Homo sapiens: one gene and its partners. The protein of the gene in region 2 purifies or fractionates together with the protein of the main gene of each other region. This does not show direct contact. Each region holds a gene or a part of one and is shown on either strand. Other genes may lie near its edges.

Region 1 (4,526 bases), on a different chromosome or scaffold from region 2:
CATGTGCTACTCACATGTTGCTTTTGGCATTCCTCAGGAAAATACAACTGTATATTACTTAGTCTTAGATGTGCAAGAATCGGACTGTTCGGTCCTATCCAGGAAATACTGGAATGACTGTGAGCCACCTGATTCCAGACGTCCATCTGAAATAGTAAGTAAAGAGGGCACCTTCACTCTGCTCTTTTCATTCTTATTTTCCATCTACTCTGTTCACTCAGCCAATGCCTGGGCTAACACAGTAGAAGAGAAAGGGCAGCTTTTGCCTTGAGATTCATGAAGATGATGTTAACCTTGAGCAATACTCTTGAGAGTCTTTCCTGGGAACCCAGTTCAAGACAACTCAGCAGGGTGTGTGGTCCCATCAAAGAGCATAACCAGCTGTGGGTCCTTGGGTAAATCATCTAATAACATCCCTCCACTTTGGTGTTTTTTGACTGTAAAATAAGAAGTGGGTTTAGGAATTCATGGACTCTAAGGGCCTTCCACTCTTGACAGTCTACAGGTATCAGAATCTATGAACTTGTAATTGTGTCCTATGAACAATGGTCCTATTTTCAGGAATGGCCAAAGTAATTACTTGCAGTGAGGAATTGGGTCTTGCTCAGCACCTAGGATATACACTGAGGAATAAGATCTGGCTTTGCATGTGGGAGGTGGGTATTGACATGCCAGGCTCTCTGACACAGGTGGAGAACATGAAGATGAATAAGCAGAGATTCAAGATTTCATTTCCAGAAAATGAGAGGTTCACACTCCTGGAACTTTCACCACTTTTTCCCTTGAAAATGTTTGGGGTATGGCCATGATGCTTTAAATAGTTTCTCGCTGGTTCTCCTGAGGATTTTGAGTGCCAACAGGATGCAGCACACAGAAACTGACTAAGAAAATGCAGGGTTTGAGACAAGCTTTGATGAAAGAAATGCATTTTTAAATGAACAGTAGGAGGATGTTGCATCACCTTTTTGCTCTTTCATATCTGACCTGAGGAAGGCAGGATGCAATGACTCAGCAAGTCCTCAAGAGCCTCTTTCTTACAGGTGATCGGACAATGTAAGGTAATAGCTACAAGACATTCCCATGAATCTCAGGACCTCAGAGTGATTGACTTTAACTGCACCACAAGTTCTGGTATGGTAATCTGTTAAATTGCTAATTAATTCTTGATTAATACAAATTCAATCATACAGTGGTATTTGTCTCATCTATGTACATATGTATTCATATATATTCAGATGTATTCATGTATATCTATGATGTACATGAAAGAAAAGCCTTCATAGACTCCATTATTATTCATTCTCCAGAGAATAGAATTGAGACAAATTTCCCTGGTACTGGTACACCTTCTTTTAAAGAAATTCAACACATAAAAATAGAGATTTAGGAGAGGTAGGTTAGCCTCATTATAGATATAGGCTTTGGAGTCAGGCTTGCTTTAGCTTGAGTCATCATCTGCCAGTTGTATAGTCTTGGGAGGAAGTAAAGTCTTGGGACTATGAAGTAAAGGTTATGACACTTTCTATTTAAGACAAAATAATTGATGCTCAAAGAAGTTAAATGACTTGGCCTCAAGAACAAAGCCAAGATATTGTGAAGATGTGACACAATCCCAGGAGTATTAACTCTAAATTCCACAGCTTTTTTATTTATTTATTTTTATTTTTGAGACAGAGTGTCGCTCTTGCTACCCAGGCTGGAGTGCAATAGTGTGATCTCGGGTCACTGCAACCTCCACCTCCCGGGTTCAAGCAATTCTCCTGTCTCAGCCTCCCAAGTAGCTAGGATTACAGGCATATGCCACCACATCCAACAAATTTTGTATTTTTAGTAGAGATGGAGTTTCTCCATGTTGGTCAGGCTGGCCTCAAACTCTTGACCTCAGGTGATCTGCCCACCTTGACCTCCCAAAGTGCTGGGATTACAGGTGTGAGCCACCACGCCCAGCCTCCATACCCTTTTAATTTACATTTTCAAATAGAATTATCACAGGATTCCTTTTTAAAATAGCAAATCCAAATATGATATTATATACAAAAATGCAAGATACTGCCACAGGAGTTTGCATTGAAGAAAGGATGATCTGTATCTTCTCCTCTCTCTGGGCAAAACTCTATGTTAATGCTCTGTCTTCCCCCTTGGCAACAACAGGAAGAACTTATTAAAATATTAGTGGCCTGGTGCGGTGGCTCACATCTATAATCCCAGCACTTTGGGAGGTTGAGGCCAGAGGGTTGCTTGAGCCCAGGAGTTTGAGACTAGCCTGGGCAATGTGACTCAACCCCATCTCTATTATTTAATATATATGTTAATATATATATCATATTAATACCTAAATATATGATTATATAATATAAAAACATATGATATATTATATAATATATAAATATATAATAGATATTATATAATAGATAATATATATTTATATATTAACGAATGTCATAGTTGTCATATTTATATATATATGTTAGCACTTTATCAGTGGTACTGGTGAAGGCATCATGAGTAGGGGTCACAACATAGACATGGGGATCAGAAAGACTCGAAGGAAGAATCAGCAGTTTAGTTCGGTTGCCAAATGGCTGATTGATCTTGAAGCAGTTACTCAGCTCTTCCCACCCTCAATTTGCCCATCCTTAAAATGAAAGTTATTGTCATTCTTGCCACCAAGCCACCATTAACATTTCCAGCCCTTTACTGTGACACTGCTATCTTCTTTCTCCAGTCTCTTCAGCACTGGCCAATACCAAAGATAGTCCGGTCCTCATAGATTTCTTTGAGGATACTGAGCGCTACAGAAAACAAGCCAACAAAGCCCTTGAGAAGTACAAAGAGGAGAATGATGACTTTGCCTCTTTCAGAGTGGACCGAATCGAGAGAGTTGCAAGAGTGGTGAGTCTCCACTAAGGTTCGGTTGGAGTCTGAAGGCCCAGGCTCCAACCTGGCAGCAGGAACTGAATGGCATACCCTCTCCACCTGCCTCAATTGACTAGCTGCCTTTTAATTTGTCACTTTTGAGGCCATAAAAGACAGGCAGCAGGTATTTAAAAAATACAAAAAAATTGCTTTCCTCAAACACTTTTTTTTTTTTTTGAAGGATGGGTAGGGGAGTAGACATCTGACAGAGTAGGGAGAAAATCTAAAGAGGAAACAGGGAAAGACAAGAACATATGAGGGTTGTGTCATTGCAAATCATCCAATACTAACATTCTTGTACTATGATGGAAAACTGAAGTTCAGAGAAATTACCTCACCACACCCAGTAATGTGCCTATAGTTAGATGGTTCCCTGCTCTCTCTACAAGGACCCAAGTACTTTCACCCAGAGCTGTCTTGTAGAGCAACTGGTTGACATTTGCTATGCATTCAGAAAATGCAGCGTTAAATAGATTGTGTTGCATACAAGTAAGGAAATGAGTACCATGCAGTTGCTCAAAGAATGTTTGGACCCATGCGCACTGGAGTTTGAAAACATATTGGTATAGGAAAATGCAGGTTATAGAACAGTACTTAGACTATGGACCCATTTATATGAAACACTTAGATCTCCCTGTGTATGTGTAACACATCTAGGAAAACACTCGAAGAGGAAACACATCAAATAAATGAGAATGAAAACTCTGGGAAGAAGTTGGAGTGCAGGAGAGGTGATTTTTCACACTCTACTTTATCATATATTTATTATTTGAACCTTTTCAGTGAACTGGTATTCACCTTATCACTTAGGTGATACATTTTTAAAAGGCAGAAACCATTTTAAAAAATGACACATACTGGTGATTTTGAATTCTCATACTGCCTTAAAAAATATTGAATGGTAGTTATCTACTGCTTTTTTTTCCTTTTTCTTTGTCTGTTCTTGAAACTATTTTGATCCCATCTGTTCTAGAGAGGAGGGGAAGGAACTGGTTACTTCGTGGACTTCTCTGTGCGGAACTGCCCCAGACACCATTTCCCCAGACACCCCAATGTGAGTATAAGAAATGTCTGTGATCGTTGACTAGAGTCACAGAGAAAAAAGAAAGAGAAGAAGGAGAAGGAGAAGGAGAAGGAGAGGAAGGAGAAGAAGGAGAAGAGGAATGAGAAGGAGAAAATGAGGAGGAGGAGAAGGAGGAAGAAATGTCTGTGAAATACAAAGTATCATCTGGGAAGCACTTAGTACCTGCCAGGCACTCTTCTAAGTGATTTACACATCAGATAACTTATTGTTTTGTTTTGTTTTTGAGATGGAGTTTCGCTCTTGTTGCCCAGGTTGGAGTGCAATGGCACAGTGTCGGCTCACTGCAACCTCCGCCTCCCGGGTTCAGGCGATTCTCCTGCCTCAGCCTCCGGAGTAACTGGGATTACAGGCATGCACCACCACGCCCAGCTAATTTTTGTATTTTTAGTAGAGATGGGGTTTCACCATGTTGATCAGGTTGGTCTCAAACTCCTTATCTCAGGTGTCCACCCACTTCGGCTGGGATTACAAATCAAAGTGCTGGGGTTACAGGCGCAAGCCACCATGCCCAGCCTATGATAACTTA
Region 2 (5,368 bases):
CGGCGCGCCCGCCCCAGCCCGAAGGTGCCGCCCCGGAGGGACTCGGGGAGGGGGACGGCGCGGCCGTTTCCAGCGGCGCAAGTGGCTTCTGGACGCGAGGGAGCGTTTGATTTGCAACTGGGGCCGAGCGGATTGGTGCAGCTGGCGGCGGCGGGGCGGGAGGAGCTGCCGCGGCGGGGGGTGGCCACTTTCAAATGGAGAGGGCGGCGGCGGCGGGGACGCCGCTGCGGAGGGAGCGGGGCTTGGTTGCGCCACGAGAAGGTGTCATCACTGCACCGGGGCTAATTCCGGCGGAGGTGCCGGGAGTTACTTTCCCCTCCTCCCGCGCTGTTGTTTCTGTCGCCTCGGGAGGAGGAGGAGGAGGAGGATTGGGAGAGAGGGAGGGGTCGGCGCCGCGCGGAACCGCGGCCCTGCGCATTCCCCGGCGGGCGGCGGGAGCCGCGCGGAGCGTTCGCCGCTGCGGGGCGGCGGCCGAGCTCCCCCACAACCCCGGGGTGCCCCCCTTGCTGGGATCCTTAGCCTTCTCACGTCCCCTCTCACTCCGCCACCCTCCCACTAGAGCTCCTTATTCTCGAGTCCTCAACCCCGGCTTGGCGCGTCCCGGGTCTCCCCTCGCCCCAGGATTCCTCCCGCGCCAGGCTCCGCTGGCCCCAGGTTTCCCACCCCAAGCGGGTGGGGGCGGCCGCAGTCCCGGCGCCGGTGAATGCTGAGAGCAAACAAAAAAGCGGGCGATTTAAACATGCCTTCGAAACCCGTTAGGAATGCGTCGTCATCCGGAGACCGTTTAAAAGGAGCTTTAGCTTGCCTTCTAGTAACGAGAGGGCTGGCGCCCTGCCTTACTTCGGCAGGGGCGAGGGGCTGTCGCCCTCTATTTGCCCCGGCCAAGAGGGAATTTAAATTTTCTTTTGTAAAATGACAGCTGCAGTGAATGACCTGAGACAGCTACGTTTTTAGGAAAGTAGGAGAGGATCTGAGGTTTCCATTAATGGGAATGCTTAGGGGGTTCTTTCCCAAAGGTTTTTTATTAGGTGAACTATTTTTCCTTTTTATAATACCCGCCATGAAGGCTAGCTCTCTTGCTACTTGTAGCTCAAGGCTAATACCTTTCAAAGCTAATGAACTAGTTTTAAGATAGAGGGAAATTATTTCCCTGAAAGCTGATTTAGGTAGTGACTCCCCAGTGGTTACAGATTTTATAGTAAGTTGCATTTTGATCATATCACAACTGATCAAGATTTAATCACAGGTGGAGAAAGGTGGAGAAAGGAAGCATTCAATATGTCCATACTTGCATTGAGTCAACACTTTTGATGTAATAATTTGTTGTAGGTGGGCAACATACGTGGGGGGAGTTAAATGGGATGTTTTGTGAGTAACACTCTTAGCAAGTACATGCAACCCAGAATTTTTATTGTCCTTTTATCCCAAAGATCTTAGTCTCATTTACTTACGGTCACTTTTTTTTTTTTTTTTTTTTGTTCCTTGAGACAGAGTCTTTCGCTCTGTCACCCAGGCTGGAGTGCAGTGGCATGATCTTAGCTCACTGCAACCTCCGCCTCCTGGGTTCAAGCGATTCTCCTGCCTCAGCCCCCTGAGTAGCTGGGACTACAGGCGCGTGCCACCACGGCTGGCTAATTTTTTTTTGTATTTTTAGTAGAGACGGGGTTTCACCATATTAGCCAGGCTGGTCTCGAACTCCTGACCTCGTGATCCGCCCGCCCCGGCCTCTCAAAGTGCTGGGATTACAGGCGTGAGCCACCACGCCCAGCCTGCTTACGGTCACTTGTAAATCAGATGACTTTCTGCTTGGTATTTTGCTGTCTTCTTCAAAGTTTGGATACTTCTATAAGTGTCTTTTACTTGGCATTGTCATTTTAATGTGTAGAATAAATATAATTTTAAGCTGTTTAAGTGTTAGGTTTCCTGCTATTTCCTTTGGTCCCTATTTAGCAGAGATAATGGGAGTGTCTGAAAGTAAGGTAGAACTTGAACTTGATTCCACCTTTAAGAGTACAGACTGCTTACTAGTAAAAGTTGGGTTGGCTGCACATATATTTTAGCTTTAACAAAGGTAGATATGTGTTCATTTAAAAGAAAAAAAAAAAACCCACCTTCTTAGTTCTCCCCGCTTCACTTGACTGGTTTTCTGCCTGTAAACCAGTGCTGTGCTTATATTAGTTATCCAGGTTGAAAGAGTAGCTATACAGGGACAGCAATGAAAAGTATGTGTGTCTGGGTGAAACTAGAGGGAGAAAACCTATTGGAGTTTGAGGAAATGTGTTTTGTTGCTTAGCCTAGGGGGTTGGAGAAGAAAGATGACCTAAAAAACAAACTTGGAGGACTAGGTGAGAGTAAAAGCAGATTTCCATTGCGTCTTACGTATAGTAGGCACGTGACCGATATTAATTTTTGACTTTAGCTGTTAAAAAGTTATTACACAAGTAGTGTTACATGTACGTTTTTGAAAATTAGAAAATACAAGGAAACAAATATAAAAACAAATTGCTACCATCCATAGATGACTACTGTATTACTTTTCAGATAATTTTCTATGCATGTGCATGTGTGTTTTAATAAAAATGAGATACATGAATATACCATCTGTAAGGATTTTTTCTTTTTTTTTTTTTTTTGAGATGAAGTTTTGCTCATGTTGCCCAGGCTGGAGTGCAATGGTGGGATCTCACTGCAACCTATGCCTCCCAGGTTCAAGCGATTCTCCTGCCTCAGCCTCCTGAGTAGCTGGGATTACAGGCTCCCGCCACCACGCCCAGCTAATTTTTTGTATTTTTAGTAGAGACGGGTTTTCACCATGTTTGTCAGGCTGGTCTTGAACTCCTGACCTCAGGTGATCCACCTGCCTCGGCCTCCCAAAGTGCTGGGATTACAGGCGTGAGCCACCGCACCCAGCTCTGAGGACCTTTTTTTTTTCTGTCAGCTAGCTTGGTTAGTTTTAATATAATCTATTACTGTAACATGTCCAGATTTCCCCATTTAGCCCCAGACTGTAATAGAGAAGCTTTGTCTAAACCACTGCCTAATAAAGGACCATTTATTGCATTTGGTTGTTTCCCTTAAGTCGATTTTAATCTTAAGTAACTTTTTTTTTTTTTTTTTGAGACGGAGGCTTGCTCTGTCACCCAGGCTGGAGTGCAGGGGTGCGATCTCGGCTCCCTGTAAGCTCCGCCTCCCTGTAAGCTCCGCCTCCCTGTAAGCTCCGCCTCCCTGTAAGCTCCGCCTCGCGGGTTCACGCCATTCTCCTGCCTCAGCCTCCAGAGTAGCTGGGACTACAGGCACCCGCCACCATGCCCAGCTAATTTTTTTGTATTTTTATTAAGACGGGGTTTCACCGTGTTAGCCAGGATGGTCTCGATCTCCTGACCTCGTGATCCGCCCGCCTCAGCCTCCCAAAGTTCTGGGGTTACAGGCGTGAGCCACCGTGCCCGGCAATCTTAAGTAACTTTTTGACAGAATATCTGACACTGAGGAGGCAAGCCTTTGGAAATAAAGTTGCCTGGATTTTAAAAAAGCAGGAAATCCAAATGGTATTTATTGTAATTTGGAAATCTTAAATTTGGAGATCATCTGCTTGCTTGATGTTACTTTCCACAGACTTGTTGGAAAAAGATTTATCAGATGTTTGTGTTTCAGTACTGAGGTGGTTGGAACAGTAAACATCAAGATATCAAATACAGATTACATCCTGTCTCTTTAGGGTTTGGTCAGAGAAGAGGAGGCATAGGAATCTGTCACAGTTCTGCTTGCTGCTTTACTTTCTTGTTTGTGAAGCTCTTCCCTGTCATTTAGTATTATGGGGCACCTGTTACAGCATTACAGTTAATGGTCTGTCAGAATTTGCATTATAAAACTGGTTTTCCTGTGAGGTTTATAAAACAGTTATAGAGGGAAATATGACATATTAGCGAACACACCTTGCTTTTTATTTGGGTTGGCATTAAGAGGTTTAGCTTGATTGTTAAAACGGTGAAAGTTACGTCACGTTTAAACTTATTTCCTCCCTTGTACAAGCCTTTAGAGAATTGGCACCATATTCAACAATACTTTTTTTTTTTTTTTAAACATGAAGGGTGGGTTTGCTTGGAGTTTCTGGTTTCTTAGAAGGTATCAGCAATCTTAAATTAGGAAAGTATTTTAATTCCTGAGACAGGTAAGTTGTTTCCTTAAAAGTCTTAAATCTGTTTTCTCCGTTTTCAAGTCCTTGCAGCACTTTATATGACCATGTATTTACAATCTGGACAATTCTTTTTATGTTTGTGGAATGTAATATCTCAGAAGTTGAGATTTAGTTGAGTCTATTGAGTCTATTGTCCTTTGCCTAGTGTATTTCTCATATGAAAACTTTGGTTTGTGATCATGAGGGTGTATGCATTATTTTTATTTTTTCTTTTTTTGCAGTTCATAGCCCTGATGAAGCAAGTTACTCTGCTCTCCTAATAAATGCAAGAAAATGACCTTGGAGGGCCTTTTTAATTACACATAGAAGTGACAATTTGTAAGTTTAAGGTTGGGTGTCATGGAATAGAATGGAAGAAATTGATGCTAAAAACTTTGGCTATGATGGGGCCTTTCCTAGCCCAGGACTTGAATGATTATTAAGGATCCTTTCCTCACCTCAAAGCACAAACATAAAGATTACCAGACTTGGACTGGAAAGCCTTTATCACTAGGAAAGGGGCCATGTATTTTTACGTTTAATCCCTTAGACCCATAGTGTACGATGTGCACACAGTAAATGTTCAGTGACCAAATTTTGGTTACTCTAAAACGAATTCAGTATTTACTTTTTGCCTTTAGTTCTTCAGGTAGAGGTAGGACATAATGTGATAGAGAGCAGTTGAAGAAAGTTAATTTTTAAAACCTTAGATTTTTTTGGGCTTACTTGTTGAGGGAAGTAAACTACATTTTCTCTCTCTTTTTTTTTTTTTGAGACAAGTTCTTGCTCTGTCACCCAGGGTGGAGTGCAGTGGTGGGATCTCGGCTCACTGCAGTGGGTTCAAGTGAGTCAGCCTCCGGAGTAGCTGGGATCACAGGCGCATGCCGCCGTGTCTGTCTAATTTTTGTATTTTTAGTAGAGACGGGGTTTTACCATGTTGGCCAGGCTGGTCTCAAACTCCTGACCTCAAGTGACCCACCTACCTCGGCCTCCCAAAGTGCTAGATTACAGGTGTGAACCACCATGACTGGCCAGTTTTCTATTACTTTGAAAGCGCTCACAATTGACATCTGTCTCTTTGTATTTTTTGTTAGAGAGATGAGGTTTCACTATGTTGCTCAGGTTGCCCAGGCTAGTCTTGAACTCCAGAGCTGAGTCCTCCCGCCCTGGCTTCCTAACTGCGATTACAAGTGT
Region 3 (4,526 bases), on a different chromosome or scaffold from region 2:
TCTCTGTCAAAATACCTGCAAAAGCAAGAATCATTTATGATATAGTCTTTATTGCTCCTCTTTTTCCTTATTAGCCAATGACAATATACTTATTGGTTAATGGTATTGCTCCTCCTTACACAAGGAGATAAAAGATGTTACACAAAAGAAAAAAGATACAAATGAGTTAACCAGTGTGTTTGAAAAACTAAAATCCAAGGAAATCTCAAGGATATAAGCTGTCAATGCCATGCAGTTCCTACGGTTAGGAAAGTCAAGGTTTTGTCATAGTTACTGGTATATAGTTAGATACACTAGGGAAAGATGAATGTGAACCCCAGGAAATAAGATAATGGGCCTATGGTTTGGGGATAGGTTTCCACTTATTCTGTTCGTCCTGAGTCTGGCTATGCTTCTTATCAGCAACACTCACTAGAACCCCTAGCCAACTGAAAGATCTGACGATAAAAAGATATTAATATTAAACAGTTAAGTTTGGAGACTACTGAATTATGTTTATGTATCTTTGTTATCCATTAGCCGATTTGCAATAACACCCAAAGGGATAAATAATGCTACAGCCTATAAAAATAATCTGAGGACATGTTAATCTGGACCAAAAGTAGAACAATATCTGAATATCAGGCTGCCTTTTTGGGCCACCACAAAGCAGCAAAAATGGATTCAATTCTCTAGAAGATTTCCAGACAAGGGAGAATTAAGGACAGGATAATGTGCAATTGACTCTCTTTGAGAAAGATGAAGTTTGGAAATAGGAAGATAATGCCTCTCCTCTTTGCTCACAGGGTACTCTGGGAAAAATACTAATACATTTTAAAAAGACTATTTTATATATGTTTACATCTCCCTACGAGACAGTAACATTTTCTAAAGCATATATAGGGGTTATTTATATCTCAATCTCTAGCAATTAGCACAGCTCCTTGGCCCCAGAACTGGTTCATAAAAATTGAAATTAAATCACAATGTCTCTCCATAGAACGATGCAGCCTAAACCTAGAATGTCATAATCTGTCACACTCTGGAGGCTCCTAGATGTTCCTTTACTGTGTGACTATGTTACTCCTTATTAATAAAAATCATGATTAGTCATCATCCAAAGAGTACTGACCACCCCAGTGCCAGGCATTAATCTTTTAGTATTATTTTGTTGAAAACGTTTTAAAAATTTATTTTCAAATGACATTTCTTTCTGTAGCATAAGTATAGACATTTTCTACTGGAAACCAGGATGAAGAGACGCTTCACTTAACAAAACTACTTCAAGCTCAATCTCTGGAAGAATTAATATACTCTATTATATAAGTGATACTAGTTGTTAGTTTAGGAAAAAAGTTTCTCATAAAGCTTGGAACAGAAAGAAAAAAAAATCCTTAGTTACACTCAATTGAATCATAAACCTCAAGCAAATAAAGGATAAGGTCCTGTTTCATGACTTGGCTGGCTTGGTTTAAATAAGTAATGTGAAGAATATGATTATCGCAGTATATCATGATTCTGCACTGTGTCAGAGATAAAGTTTTATGTGATTTTTTTTCTAATAAATAAAGCTAAAAGTGACAAGAGGTAATTATCACTGGTTTGACAACTGAGTCCAGTCCAAAACCACAACTTTTATTCAGATCATCGAGATTACTGAGTTATACTTGGTGAATCTCTCTTGGAGGCAATCATGGAACAGCAAGAAAAAGGGAAAGACAAAAGTGGTTCTAGAGTTCCCCACTACACTCCCTACTTTTACCTGTTTTAACAATTGGTCTTCCATCTAAAAGTCTGTTTGAACAAAGGGTTCCATGGCTAAGAAAATTTGACTTTTGAACGTCTGTCAATTTACAACAGAGAAATTCAAATTCTTATGGGGAAAACTCTAGTAGTTATACTTTAATAAAAAACCAAATTTTTATAACGTTAACACTAGCCACTTCAAACCAGTGACTGACCTAAATAATAGTATCACAAAATTGAAAAATTATGAAAAAATGATTATATTCTAAACAAACACACCCACATCCAGAATCAATAATAGCATGTAAGGGCCGGGCGCAATGGCTCACCCCTGTAATCCCAGCACTTTGGGAGGCCGAGGCGGGTGGATCACCTGAGGTCAGGAGTTCAAGACCAGCCTGACCAACATGGAGAAACCCCATCTCTACTAAAAAAAAAAATACAAAAAATTAGCCAGGTGTGGTGGCACATGTCTGTTATCCCAGCTCCTCGGGAGGCTGAGGCAGGAGCATTGCTTGAACCCGGGAGGTGGAAGTTGCAGTGAGCCGAGATCGCGCCATTGCACTCCAGCTTGGGCAACAAGCAAAACTCCGTCTCCAAAAAAATAAAATAAAATAAAAATAAAAAAATAGCAAGTACGTACCACTCAGCATTGGGATGAGAAGTTGAAACCATCTGTGGAAAATCAATCATGGTGATATGGTCACTTTCATCCAAAATGAGATTAAATTCATTAAAATCTCCATGAATCAGCCCATGATTTGCAAGTTTGACAATTAGTTCCATAGCTTCATCATATACTGATGCAGGATCTTCAACATGGTGTATCTGACATCTGAAAGTATTTTAAGCATGAAAATAGGTTACTTGTGTTCATTTACGGTTTTAACGAAAGTATGTATGCATGTGAACATATATATTATTTCCATGCTGTGTATCCCCAGCAGCTTTCTTCTCATTCCCATCAGCACACAGATATAATATCTCCCATCTATTAAAAAAATAGCCACACTGCTTCAATTCTGTATCTCTTTTCTACTACTACCTTTCTTTGATCTTTACAGCCAAACTTGTCTACATGTGCTTTTCCAATTTGTTTCCTCCTACTCTCTCATACCATTTCAAACAGGCTTTTTATAACGTTAACACTAGCCACTTCAAACCAGTGAGTGACCTAAATAATAGTATCACAAAATTGAAAAATTATGAAAAAATGATTATATTCTAAACAAACACACCCACATCCAGAATCAATAATAGCATGTACGGGCCAGGCGCAATGGCTCACCCCTGTAATCCTAGCACTTTGGGAGGCCAAAGTGCTTCCAAGATCACCCTTGTTGAGACTACAATGACTTCAATGTTGCTAAATCCAAAGGTCAATTCTTAGTCCTCATCATATGTGGTCTGTCAGTTGACCTCTTTGAACATTTTCTTCACTTAACTCTTGGGACACCATTCTCTCCAGGTGTTCTTCCTTCCTCACAGATCATACCTTCTTAGTCTTTTCTATTTGTACTTCATCTTTTTCCTTGACCTCTAAATTCTGGAGTTCCTCAAAGGTCAATCCTATGACCTTTTATTTTCTCTTATTTAGACTCATTCTTGGTGATCTCATCTAGGTTAATGGTTTAAATACCACATATACACTGATTTTAATGTAGACTTCTCTAACTCCCAGGCATCTCAAACTTAGCATGTCCAAAATGGAATCTCTGATTCTGTCCCACCCTCCAACTCCAAAATGCTGTTCCTGTAGCTTTCCTGTTTCTATACATGGTAGATTTCTCCTTCCAGTTAATTTGCTACTCAGGGGAAAAACCTTGGTGTCACCATTGACTCATCCCTTCCTTCACATCCATATCCAATCTCAAATCATGTTGGTTCAACCTGCAGAACACATTCAGAATCTGACCACTTTTCATCACCTTCACAACTATCACTGTAATCAGAATTACAACCATTTCTTGCCTAGATTATTGTAATAGCCTCTTAACTTGTCTTCCTAATTCTTTGTCTCCCCAGAGTCTATTAATTCAGCAAGCAGAGTGACCCTCTGAAAACACTGAGATCACTGATTGATGAGATCACATCTCTTCTCTGCTCAAAATACTCCCACTCCAATAGCTGCTAATCTGAATCAAAATTTGATGAGGTTTCACCTTATTAGTGAGACTTTTCTTGACCACCCTACATAAAACAGTAGTCTCCTGTCCCGTTAGTACTTCCTATCTCCCTTACTCTGCTTTTTTTTATCCATAGTACTTACTAACAATTGATATACATTTCCTTTAGTTATTTATTGCACATCTCCTTCCATCAGAATGTAAATTCCATGAGGGCAGGGACTTTGTTTTGTTCACTGCTGAGATTAAAAGTTCCTGGCACCTAACAGTCTCTTAATATTGAATGAATGAATGAATCACAGAGATTACAAAGTTCATATTGTCAGAATGAAACTGGGTTTTTAATTTGTCTTTGAGTCTATTCCTTTAAATAAATTTTAACCTCCCAGAGGCAATATTTCATTAACTAAAAAAAATTTTATTAAAAACCCTGAAACTTAAATTCATTTATCAGGATTCATGGCTTTAAGAATAATGAATACTTACAGTGGATAACCATTTATGAGTTCCATGACCACTGCATGACGATTGTAATCAATTGGCTTTGGAACTGGAAATTTCCTCTCATACAATGCCTAAAATGTTGCAAAACAGGTGTAAGCTAATGAACAGGTCATTACTCTTTAAAGAACAATAAAAGTAAATATACCTTTCTACAACCAGAAAAAAAACACA
Region 4 (4,526 bases), on a different chromosome or scaffold from region 2:
GCCAAGAAAAAGAGGAACCAGAAATCTCCACGGAAAAAGAAGACTCTGCACGTTTGGATGATCACGAAGAGGAGGAGGAAGAGGATGAAGAGCCATCCCACAACGAGGACCATGATGCCGATGACGAGGATGACAGCCACATGGAGTCTGCCGAAGTGGAGAAGGAAGAGCTGCCCAGAGAAAGCTTCAAAGAAGTACTGGAAAACCAGGAGACTTTTTTAGACCTTAATGTGCAGCCTGGTCACTCGAACCCAGAGGTCTTAATGGACTGTGGCGTCGACCTGACAGCTTCTTGTAACAGTGAGCCCAAGGAGCTTGCTGGGGACCCTGAAGCTGTACCCGAATCTGACGAGGAGCCACCCCCAGGAGAACAGGCACAGAAGCAGGACCAAAAGAACAGCAAGGAAGTCGATACAGAGTTCAAAGAGGGAAACCCAGCAACCATGGAAATCGACTCTGAGACTGTCCAGGCCGTTCAGTCTTTGACCCAGGAGAGCAGCGAACAGGACGACACCTTTCAGGATTGTGCCGAGACTCAAGAGGCCTGTAGAAGCCTACAGAACTACACCCGTGCAGACCAAAGTCCACAGATTGCCACCACGCTCGACGATTGCCAACAGTCGGACCACAGTAGCCCAGTTTCATCCGTCCACTCCCATCCTGGCCAGTCCGTACGTTCTGTCAACAGCCCAAGTGTCCCTGCTCTGGAAAACAGCTACGCCCAAATCAGCCCAGATCAAAGTGCCATCTCAGTGCCATCTCTGCAGAACATGGAAACCAGTCCCATGATGGATGTCCCATCAGTTTCAGATCATTCACAGCAAGTCGTAGACAGTGGATTTAGTGACCTGGGCAGTATCGAGAGCACAACTGAGAACTACGAAAACCCAAGCAGCTACGATTCTACTATGGGAGGCAGCATCTGTGGAAACGGCTCTTCACAGAACAGCTGCTCCTATAGCAACCTCACCTCCAGCAGTCTGACACAGAGCAGCTGTGCTGTCACCCAGCAGATGTCCAACATCAGCGGGAGCTGCAGCATGCTGCAGCAAACCAGCATCAGCTCCCCTCCGACCTGCAGCGTCAAGTCTCCTCAAGGCTGTGTGGTGGAGAGGCCTCCGAGCAGCAGCCAGCAGCTGGCTCAGTGCAGCATGGCTGCTAACTTCACCCCACCCATGCAGCTGGCTGAAATCCCCGAGACGAGCAACGCCAACATTGGCTTATACGAGCGAATGGGTCAGAGTGATTTTGGGGCTGGGCATTACCCGCAGCCGTCAGCCACCTTCAGCCTTGCCAAACTGCAGCAGTTAACTAATACACTTATTGATCATTCATTGCCTTACAGCCATTCCGCTGCTGTGACTTCCTATGCAAACAGTGCCTCTTTGTCCACACCATTAAGTAACACAGGGCTTGTTCAACTTTCTCAGTCTCCACACTCCGTCCCTGGGGGACCCCAAGCACAAGCTACCATGACCCCACCCCCCAACCTGACTCCTCCTCCAATGAATCTGCCGCCGCCTCTTTTGCAACGGAACATGGCTGCATCAAATATTGGCATCTCTCACAGCCAAAGACTGCAAACCCAGATTGCCAGCAAGGGCCACATCTCCATGAGAACCAAGTCAGCGTCTCTGTCACCAGCCGCTGCCACCCATCAGTCACAAATCTATGGGCGCTCCCAGACTGTAGCCATGCAGGGTCCTGCACGGACTTTAACGATGCAAAGAGGCATGAACATGAGTGTGAACCTGATGCCAGCGCCAGCCTACAATGTCAACTCTGTGAACATGAACATGAACACTCTCAACGCCATGAATGGGTACAGCATGTCCCAGCCAATGATGAACAGTGGCTACCACAGCAATCATGGCTATATGAATCAAACGCCCCAATACCCTATGCAGATGCAGATGGGCATGATGGGCACCCAGCCATATGCCCAGCAGCCAATGCAGACCCCACCCCACGGTAACATGATGTACACGGCCCCCGGACATCACGGCTACATGAACACAGGCATGTCCAAACAGTCTCTCAATGGCTCCTACATGAGAAGGTAGACAACGTGGGCAGTCCACAAAACCTACGGGGCATCACTATTGGATTGATCTGCACAAATACCTTTGAAGAGTACGATTTCAAAACCAGCAATTGGTGTGAATGCAAAAACATTTGTTGGCACCATTTATTTAAAAAAAAAAAAAGCTGTATGCAGCAGAAAGCCTTATACAAGTTGTTTTTCTTTTTTTCCTTTTTCTTTTTTTTGGTACCTTCATTTCTGTTACTTTTATATAAAATTCTCTGCAAAGGAAGGCCTCTCTTTGGACTACAATTTGGAGGCAGCCACTTGTTGTGCCTGCTTCTGTTAAACAATGTGGATATCAAGCCCCCCCAAATTATCTGTTTTAATATTGAACCTAGAGCTTTTTTTTTCCCTTCCCTGTCCACTCCATGTAAATGCCTTTAGCATTTCAGTTATTGTATATTTTGTTTAAGGTGACACTTCAGCATGCCGCTAATGTCTTTGTTAGTGACAGTGCATTTTGTAGTACTGTACAAGTGTTGTGCTAACAGTAAGCCATTTCTTAAGTTTTTTGCCTTGATTAGGGTGCCCTAATTTGAGGGTTTTAAAAAAAACTATATTTTTGTTAATTATAAAACTGTAAAGAGCTATAAAAGCTATTCCCATTTGGTTAGTCAAAAGGGTTTTATTGCTAAATGTTTGGTGTAAAGTTGAGACCCTTTTCCATTTTGGTGACAGATTTCTTTGGGGAAAAAAGGCAGCTTTCTGTTTTATAAATGCAGACTTCTGTTTATTGAATGAAGCATATCTCAGTGTTTATCTGTCAGGTTTTGAAACATTTCATATATGTCCAAATACTTGGCAGGATTTAAAAAAAAATAGTGAATTTGGTGTAAAGTTGCTATTTTATGGAAATGCCTCTAACTTTACATTTTCATTCCATCTGTAGATTTTTCTATCTTTATAAAATATTGGAGTTATTTTTTAAGGAAAAATAGAAAAGTAGCTTGTGAATAGCTCAAACTAAGCTTACAAATCGCATGTAAAAAAGCAAAAAAGTTATTTGTGTCTGTTTATATTGCTTCCTTTTTTGTAGCCTTTGTACCTGTACAGGGTGACAGTAAGGGCCAAGCAGGAGAGGCGTAATCCTTGTATAAAATAGGATCCAGCGACACTCTTGTATTTATCTGTTCTCTTTTTAGTCAGTCACTTCAAAAAAACAAAAAACAAACAAAAAAAAGCTGTACATTTTAACATAAAATAAATTATGATGAGCCATTTTTAGCCTCTTGTGTCCTGTCATATTATGATTGATAGAGAATGACCAATGGAACTGTATCATGTGTCACGCCTCAGAACACATACACATTTTGGGAAAATAAATTATTTAGTGTAAATTGGAGTTATGGGATTTTCTGATTTGTTTTGACTTTGGGGGAGGGGTTGGCAATAAATAAGAGTAATATCTAATAAAACCATCACATATACCAAATACCTATTTAATAAATTAATTTATAATGGATTTTAATGCTTTTCATGAAAGTTTATTTTATGCGAGTGCATACCTTCTGTATGCCAATCATTGTCTTTAAAATAAAGTGAAATTGTTTTTTTCTTTTGGACTTTGATCTTCATTTGCAAAGAGATCCCGCACAAATATCCAGCTGCCTCACTCGCACAGTCTGTAGAAACATCCCTCCAAGCCTCGCACCAGGGTAGCAAACTTCCTTTTTATAAAGATTCATACCAAAAAAAGCACCCAATTTGGGATTGTATGTTTGAAAAATCATTTTCTTTTTAAAAAGTGTGAACGTTTTGCTCTGTTGTGAATGATTAATTGTATGTTTTCTTTAGAGTCTAAAGTTTAGACCCCCTGCCAAAAGTGAATATTCACAAGTATAGCGTTCAGAGAAAGTTCTGAGTGTTGCTTGAATTTGGTTATTTGAGCAACAAGTCTAGAAATGAATGCTTGACCTAGCACCCGTGTGAAACTAGCCCGTTAAGCTCTCCAGGTGTCTGAACACGTGTGCTCGCAACTCCTCTGTTAAGCAGGTCACTACCCTGTGGAGGAAAAAAGTTGCTTTTGCACTGTTGATTCAACACACACACACAAAAATTAGATGTTTTACAAAGCATAGACATAAGCCTTAAAGTGGACCCAAAATCGTGCAAGGGCAGGATAGAGCGTACACACCAGAATAAAAGGCCTTGTGCAGACAGAGGGTGCCCAGTGGAGTTCTGCCTTGTACTCTCACCCTTATCGTTATTTTCTTTCACAGTTACAAAGTGTATTGGGTTTAGTGTCACAATTTTATCTTTTAGTCCCTTCCTTCCTCAACTGCAAAGTCAATGGGGGTAATATATGTAACAGCTGAGGGAGGGCTTTCAAGAAGACACGTCTGAAGGGCCGTCAGCACAAAGGGAAAAGATCCATTTAAGCTGCTGTGCTAATAGGAAAAGAAACCTATCAGCCATCCTCAGAGTAGGAAGTGGTGGTCTA

The links.
Region 1: the proteins of JADE1 (region 2) and HRG purify together in Homo sapiens (affinity purification with mass spectrometry, with the first as the bait; one large-scale study listed by BioGRID). This does not show direct contact.
Region 3: the proteins of JADE1 (region 2) and RIOK2 purify together in Homo sapiens (affinity purification with mass spectrometry; one large-scale study listed by BioGRID and IntAct). This does not show direct contact.
Region 4: the proteins of JADE1 (region 2) and KAT6B purify together in Homo sapiens (affinity purification with mass spectrometry, with the first as the bait; one large-scale study listed by BioGRID). This does not show direct contact.

What each region holds. Positions count from the first base shown.
Region 1 is NC_000003.12:186,668,898-186,673,423, forward strand, and holds part of HRG (histidine-rich glycoprotein precursor), read left to right. Parts: intron 1-37; coding exon 38-154; intron 155-1,040; coding exon 1,041-1,131; intron 1,132-2,725; coding exon 2,726-2,892; intron 2,893-3,889; coding exon 3,890-3,970; intron 3,971-4,526. UniProt on the Homo sapiens protein: Plasma glycoprotein that binds a number of ligands such as heme, heparin, heparan sulfate, thrombospondin, plasminogen, and divalent metal ions. Binds heparin and heparin/glycosaminoglycans in a zinc-dependent manner.
Region 2 is NC_000004.12:128,811,951-128,817,318, forward strand, and holds part of JADE1 (protein Jade-1), read left to right. Parts: exon of another isoform or gene 1-24; intron 25-4,497; exon of another isoform or gene 4,498-4,513; intron 4,514-5,368.
Region 3 is NC_000005.10:97,168,838-97,173,363, forward strand, and holds part of RIOK2 (serine/threonine-protein kinase RIO2), read right to left. Parts: intron 4,427-4,526; coding exon 4,338-4,426; intron 2,561-4,337; coding exon 2,369-2,560; intron 16-2,368; coding exon 1-15. UniProt on the Homo sapiens protein: Serine/threonine-protein kinase involved in the final steps of cytoplasmic maturation of the 40S ribosomal subunit. Involved in export of the 40S pre-ribosome particles (pre-40S) from the nucleus to the cytoplasm.
Region 4 is NC_000010.11:75,028,984-75,033,509, forward strand, and holds the end of KAT6B (histone acetyltransferase KAT6B), read left to right. Parts: coding exon 1-2,063; 3' UTR 2,064-3,641; downstream 3,642-4,526. UniProt on the Homo sapiens protein: Histone acetyltransferase which may be involved in both positive and negative regulation of transcription. Required for RUNX2-dependent transcriptional activation. May be involved in cerebral cortex development.